2 linked regions of the Homo sapiens genome follow. The protein of the gene in region 1 interacts with the protein of each later gene in a pairwise test. Each region holds a gene or a part of one and is shown in the gene's direction. Other genes may lie near its edges. The genes, in order: ZNF317 and ASXL1.

Region 1 (3,818 bases):
GATGTGATTACCTGGGCAAAGCATGAGGCATGCGAAGGAATGGGTAAAGAATGGCTCTTGAGCAGAATCAGCCTTTAGTGGTGAAAGAGGACCTCTGGATGGTCCAGATGATCCAGAGAAGCAGGGAAAGAACCAGGAGACAGTTGTAGAGGAGCCGAGAATAGAGAATGATTCTCAAAGAAAATAGACACCACATTTTCGTGAGACTCTAAGACTGAAGTGCATTTACTGGATTCACTGACACGGGAGTAAATTGTATTTTCTGTGAGGATGGGGATGATGGTAGTGGATGCTGGGTGTACTGAATTGGGAGATGGTGAATGTAGACTGCTCCTAAGTTTTTGCTCGGAAGGGGGCACTAAGGGGAGCCAGGGCAGGCATTGGTTTCAAGATGGGATAGACCTGAGCATGTGTCCATGCATAGGAAATTGTCTAGCAGGGCGAGAAATGAGGCTGAAAGTAAAGGAGAGCCAGGTAGTGCGAGGGTCCAGAGACGGGGATGGGCCTGGAGCAGATTTGAAAGGATTGCCTTGAGAAGGGAGGGCAGACATCTCTTTGTCATAGAAGGAAAGGAGGAGGTCATAGATCAGTTGTGAGAAGACTGTTTAAATAACTAGAAGCAAGAAGGTAAGAAAGCCTCATTTTTTTTCTTTCTTTTAAGCAGGGTTTAATATATGTTCAAGAAAATGCATAGGTCTTACTTAGGTGATCAGTTTGAATTTTTGACAATTGTGTACACTGTACATCTGAAAATAGGTAAGTTTCTATCATCCTAGAAAGTTCCCTTTGCTTCTTTCAGTCTATCCCTGTCTTATCCTCCATTGAAGAAACCCCCTTTTTTTTTTCAATTCTATCAACTTAATTACGTTTTGCCTATTCATGGACATTATATTGTTGGAATCAGAGCGTTTCTTGTGTGTCCAGTTTCTTTTGGCCAGCATCGTAGGGATTTCTCCATGTAGTGTGTCTGCATAGTTTCTTTTTATTGCTGAGTAGTATTCCATTCTGTAAACATTGCAATTTGTATATCCATTCTCTGGTTGATAGATGTTTAGATTGTTTACAGTATTTGGCTATTAGGAATCAGACTACTACAGACATTTTTGTACGAGTCTTTGTGGATATAAATTGTTTACAGTTTCTCTTATATAAATATCTAGGAGCAGAATTGTTGGATCAGATAGTCAGTGTGCTTGTTAAAAACTGCCAAAGTGTTTTCCAAAGTAGTTGAACTATTTCACACTCCTACCATCAGGATATGAGAGGTGCCAGTGTGCCCCAAACTCAGCAGCATTTAGTATTGGTAGTCTTTTTTATTTTGGCTGTTCTAGTTTTAATTTGCATTTCTCTAATGACTATGATATTCAACACCATTCGATGTGATTCTTACTGGTTTTGTGAAATGTCTGTTTATTAATTAAAGTCTTTTACCCTTTTTGTTGGGTTGATTTTCTTTCTTTCTTTCTGTTTTGAAGGAGTTCTTTTTATTTTTTCCAATAAGCCTTTTGCACTCCTATCTAGGAGTTCTTTAATCTGAATACGAATTCTTTTTCAGGTGTATGCATTGCAGATATTTTTTTCCCAATCCGTGGTTCACTGTTCATTTTCCTTTTTTCTTTTTCTTTTTTTGTTTTTAGAGACAGAATCTTACTCTATTGCCCAGGCTGGAGTGCATGATGGTAGCTCACTGCAGCTGTTCTCTATGAATTTTTAAGTTTCTGATTCATCTCAAAAGATGTTTAAATTCAAATTCAGTGAGTGGAGGAGGTGGCAGAAGCATAGGTGGCCGCGAATCTCTAAAGTGAGAGTTGATGTGAGAAGGTTGCACAGGAGACTTTGCCCAGAGAGCAGATTTCCAAATCATTGCCTGTGAGGTGAGGCTGATTCTAGTGATGATGCAGTCCAGGCCATGGCCCAAGGGTGTATATGTTGGTGTGGAGTGTGGGTGCAAAGGGCATTGGAGTTTGGAACTCATGGTTGATCCTGGGTGGACCATCTTCATGGATAGAGCCATCCTAAATGATCGCAGGCCTCGAAGGTGAAGGAAGAGCAGAAGTCTAGGACCAGAGTGTTTAATGAGTGAGGGGGTTTAACAGAGTTGTACTTGGTGGAAAATCACTTAGGAAGAGTAATTCTGAACCCACTTATAGCAGATCAGGGGCTGTCCCCCCACCACATCACCACATTGCTGAGAGAGTTTACCTAAGTAAGATAAAAGTCCAGGATCAGGCAGATCTTGCTGCTCAAAAGAGGAAATGCCAAAAAACAAAACTCAGAGTTTTCTTTGGTGAGCAGGAGAGACAGATAGCCTTTCACTACTCCCGATGTTCTTTCATTTGCTACAGATGCCAGCTTGGAGAGTCACGTGAGAGCAAGAGAGTAGCTTTCTGGTTGTCCTGGTGCCCTGCTCAGGCAAACTGACTGCCATTCTCTGAGGATGGCAGCTCTGTCCCCCACATTTGGTAAGTTCTTGGGTCAGTGCGTGCCCTGAGAAAGTGAGTGCAAGTGGCCCCTGCCACTTGATGGGGTGAAAGATACGTACACCATAGAGGGCTGCTGGGAGAGGATGGGCAAGTGGAAAAGGGGTGGGAACAGAGCCCCAGCAGCCACCCCAGTGACTGTGTCTGCTGAGGGTCTTGGTGGGTCTGGGAGCAGGCCAGTGTCCTTATCATTCATGCATGAAGAGGGTGCAGGTAATGGGTAACCCTGAGTTATCTCATTTATTATTTTGATCACTTTCAGCAAGGTCACAACTCTAGCTCTCAGAACTTGCATTTCTTCACTCCTAGGTTGGAACTATGTCACTTCTTATGAGTATGTAGCCCACCACCCTCTTTATGTTTTTGGTGGAACAGGGCTGCTCTGACTTGTTATGAAACTGATGTGTGCAAGAGAGGTGGGGGGAGGAAGAGAGAGAGAGGATTGAGGATGTGAACACTCAGAATCAGTGTGGAGCAGTTTCCTGGTTTACAAGTGTTGTATTATGAGACAGGGCAGGCTCTGATTCTCATGAACCCTGTTTTCTCCTCCAGCCACGTCCACCCAGGATTCCACCTGTCTCCAGGACTCAGAATTTCCTGTTTCTTCAAAAGACCATTCCTGTCCCCAGAATTTGGACCTGTTCGTGTGCAGTGGTCTGGAGCCTCACACACCCAGTGTTGGTTCCCAGGTGCACTAAGATCTCTGGGTCCCTAGAGCAGGAGAGGCACTTCCTGGAAGACCCCACCAGTGCATGCTGGAATTCTTGCAGAGCTTCATCTCAGCCAGTGGATGCCAGAACAGGGCCCAAGAGAGAGCCAAGGAATATTGGGGCTGTCCTGGTGTTGGGGAAGTTAGGGGAAGTGATTTATGTAGCATCTGTTTCCCTCATGCTTGCAAAATCTCAGGCCCTTGCTCAGCCCCAGAGACGGGGGGAAATAAAGGGCAAAGCTCTCGGAGTGGGCTAGAACTGGAGGGAGATTAGTCCCTTGTCAGGGTTGCATCTGAAGTGACGGCACAGGACAAGATGGCCTCAATGGGGAGAGAGGATGTCTGAGGACTGATGCCTGGAGGAAATGTTGAGCCCCGTAGCAGGCCATCTGGAAATCCTGTGTTGGGTCTCTCATGCCCGGTCTTCAACCTCAGCCATCTTACCATGAACATCGTTAGGCTGGTTCCTCGCTGACCCCAAGTTTGTGTGGCGTTCCAGGAATCGGTGACTTTCCAAGATGTCGCTGTGGACTTTACCGAGAAGGAGTGGCCCTTGCTGGATTCTTCTCAGAGAAAACTGTACAAAGATGTAATGCTGGAGAACTACAGCAACCTCACTTCACTGGGTA
Region 2 (3,818 bases), on another chromosome or scaffold:
CCTGTTTGTTTAACTAATGAGATTTGTAAACAGTACTTGGTTTCCCCAGACTCTAGGACCTAGAGGAAGGAAATTTTGATTTAGCTCTTGGTAAAGCATTTAACACCTAATTTTTCTTTTTCATTGTTATTTTCTTGATCACAGAAAACAATACATGTTAATAGTAGAAAATACCCACAATTGAAAAGAATATAAAGCACTTACTAAAACTCTACCACCTAGGCTAGGTACGGTGGCTCACACCTGTAATCCCAGTACTTTGGGAGGCTGAGGTGGGTGGATCACCTGAGGTCAGGATTTCAAGACCATCCTGGCCAACATGGTGAAACCCCATATCTACTAAAACTACAAAAATTAGCTGGGCGTGGTGGCAGCCACCTGTAATCCCAGCTGCTCGGGAGGCTGAGGCAGGAAAATCGCTTGAACCCAGGAGGAGGAGGTTGCAGTGAGCCGAGATCATGCCGCTGCACTCCATCCTGGGTGACAGAGCGAGACTCTTGTCTCAAAAAACAAACAAAAAAACTGCCACCTAGAGATGGTGGTGGCCAACAGCTTAGTAAGAATTTCTCTTGCATTTTTCTATGCAAACACATTCAAATTTTCATTTTTTAAAAAAGATGATAGAATCATACTGTATGAATTTAATTGCCTAATTAAGCTTGTGTATCATCGTTTCTCTTGTCATTAAATGCTGTACAGCTTTCTTTTAAATGGCTATCTGTGGTAGTGTTCCTTGAAGGAAATACCTTAAAATTTTTTGTTTTTAAACTTTTATAATTGTGGGAATGTAATACAGTGAATGCATAGGACACAAATGTTCAGCTTAAGGAATTATTATAAAGTGAACACCCTGTAACTGCCACTTAGATCACGACATCAAATATGGCCAGCAGCCAGGCGCACCTCCCCTACCCCCCACTGCCCCTTCCCAGTCACAGCCCCATTCTTCCAGCTGAAGGTAACTTCTGTCTTGACTTTATGAAAGTTATTTTCTTGCTTTCCTTTAGATTACCTACCCGTCTTTGCATTCCTAATGCTGTAGTTTAGTTGAGCTTATTTTGAACTTTTCACAAACGGAATCATCAACTATGCATTATTTTGTATCTGGCTTTCATTCACTATTTTGTTTTTAATATTCATCTATGTCGTTAGTAGCTATAGTTCATTCATTTTTTGTTGCTGTATAATCATCCATTTATTGAATGTACTACAATTTGATTCTGCCTTTGGCAGCCACTTTGATTGTTTATAATCCAGATTTCAAATGCTGCATCATGAACATGTGGGTTGTGATTTGTGTAGATGTGCATGTACTTCTCTAAGGAATCCAAGCCTAGGAGGGACGTTGCTGGGTCAGAGGATGTTTGTATCTTCAACTGTACCAGATAAGGCCAAATTGTATTCTCAAATGCTTGGATCTGTTTTCAGTGTACTTGTTCTACTCCTAATTAACACTACTTGATATTGTCAAACTTTAATTGTAGCCATTCTGATGGATGTGGTAGTATCTCATTGCGGTTTTAATTTGCATTATTTTGCATTTTCCTTATTGTTAGTGAGATTAAATACCCTTTTATATGTTTTGGCTACTTCAGTATCCTCTTGTGCAGTGCCTAATTCACATCTTTTATTTTTCTTCTGAGTTGCCTTTTGCCCATTGATTTATATTTGTTCCCCCTCTCTCCCCGCCCCCAAGAAGGAGTCTGGCTCTGTCACCCAGGCTGGAGTACAGTGGCACAATCTTGGCTCACTAACCTCTGCCTCCTTCGTTCAAGTGATTCTCCTGCCTCAGCCTCCCAAGTAGCTGGGACTGCAGGTGTGCGCCACCACGCCCAGCTAATTTTTGTATTTTTAGTAGAGACAGGGTTTCACCATGTTGACCAGGCTTGTCTTGAACCCCTGACCTCAAGTGATCCATCCGCCTTGGCCTCCCAAAGTACTGGGATTACAGGTGCAAGCCACCATGCCCGGCCTGATTTATAAATGTAGTCTAAATACAAGTTCTTTATTGGTTATGTAAGTTGCAGATATCTTTTTCAGCTCTGTAGGTAATAATGTTTTTTGATGAATAGGAGGTCTTAATTTTAATGTAGTTTAATTGATTTGTTTTCTCCTTTGTAAGAATCAATATTTTTCATGTCCTGTGTAAATCTCGTATTGGGATAAAAGATACATATATATTTTTTAGGTTTTGGCTAATAGTTTTCCGTTGGCAGCATGTGAACCTTTTTATGCCATTTTTACTTTCATCAAGGGTGTATGTATGATTTTCTCATACTCTTGTCAGAACTGGAGATTTGGGGTAACTTTGCCAGTGTAATAGACTTTCTTAATTCATTAAGGAGTATTTTATCTTAGTTTGCCCATGAGAGAAGAGAGATTAAATTTGTTTTATTATACCAAGAACATGGCAGTCAATAAGCATAACTAAAAATATTATTTAGCTTTTGATTCTGAAGACCATGTATGGCCAGTAAGGAAAAGAGGTAAAGATGTAGAAAACTGTTTTCTTTTTTTTCTTTCTTTTTTTTTTTTTTTTTTTTTTTTGAGATGGAGTCTTGCTCTGTCGCCAGGCTGGAGTGCAGTGGCGTAATCTCAGCTCACTGCATCCTCCACCTCCTGGGTTCAAGTGATTCCCCTGCCTTAGCCTCCCGAGTAGCTGGTACTACAGGCGCGTGCCACCACACCTGGCTAATTTTTTGTATTTTAGTAGAAACAGGGTTTCACCGTGTTGGCCAGGATGGTCTCAATCTCCTGACCTCGTGATCCACCTGCCTCAGCCTCCCAAAGTGCTGGGATTACAGGTGTGAGTGAGCCACTGCACCTGGCCTCTTTTTTATTAATTTAAGATACATGATTTTGGCTAAAACTAATGAAAATAAATTGATGAAACTTCAATGTAGTGGATCAAGAGACTCATGAAATTGATGAGTTAGATTGTTGTGGGCACCTGTTTTAAATTTATGGTGCCTTTTTAGCAGAATCATGACTTTATCAACTCTTTTTCACATACTTTTATTCAAAGAAGACATTCTCCTCCTCTGCCCCAACTTATCTTCTTCTTGTCTCCAACTGCCAGTATTCTCATCCACACTCTTTGTAGTTTTGAGGTGTGAGATAACTCCCAAGTTCTTCTTGGGAATGGGTAGAGTTTAATTCTGAGTCTACATGTCGTGAGTCTATTGGAAGAAGCTTTTCTTAGGAGGTGAAATTTGGGATGGAGTTCTCCTCTACACTCTAGCCCTGTAGCCACAATCTTTGGTTTAGATCTTTGGCATTTTTTGTTGGACATCTTTCATAGTGTCTACCTCTTCTTCCTGCCTCTAGGCTTCCCGCGGTTGCCAGATGAAATTCCGAAAACTCAAATCATTCCTGTAGTTAATATTCTTCAGTGACTCCGGAACAATCAAATTCTTGATCCCTCCACATGGGTCTTACCATCTGCCCTCGTGCCCTCTCTAGCTTCCTGCATATTGAGTTCCCCACAGCCCTAGTTTCCCTGAGTTTGGAATATTCTTTCACATTTGCTCATCCCACTATCTAGAAACTTCCTACAATCTCTCTACTGCCAACCTGTCTGTCTAGTTGCTAATTTATTTTAAAACCCAGCTTAAGCAACACATCCTTTTGGATGTGTTACTTCCCTGATCGTTATTCACCTCCATGCCGTCTTTCGCTCAACTCATTGAAGTTAGGTGCCCCTCTTCTGGGCTGCCACGGCTCTCCATGTTCACCTATGTACTGTACTTTGTATTGTAATCAGTTTAATTGACCCCCCTACTTATTTGAGCTCCTTGAGAGCAGGGCCTTGATTCCTG

What was found.
Region 2: the proteins of ZNF317 (region 1) and ASXL1 interact in a two-hybrid assay, tested with the Homo sapiens proteins (one large-scale study listed by BioGRID).

Annotation. Positions count from the first base shown.
Region 1 is NC_000019.10:9,153,580-9,157,397, forward strand, and holds part of ZNF317 (zinc finger protein 317), read left to right. Parts: intron 1-2,345; 5' UTR 2,346-2,437; coding exon 2,438-2,462; intron 2,463-3,032; coding exon 3,033-3,169; exon of another isoform or gene 3,170-3,688; coding exon 3,689-3,815; intron 3,816-3,818. UniProt on the Homo sapiens protein: May function as a transcription factor. May play an important role in erythroid maturation and lymphoid proliferation.
Region 2 is NC_000020.11:32,424,032-32,427,849, forward strand, and holds part of ASXL1 (polycomb group protein ASXL1), read left to right. Parts: intron 1-3,818.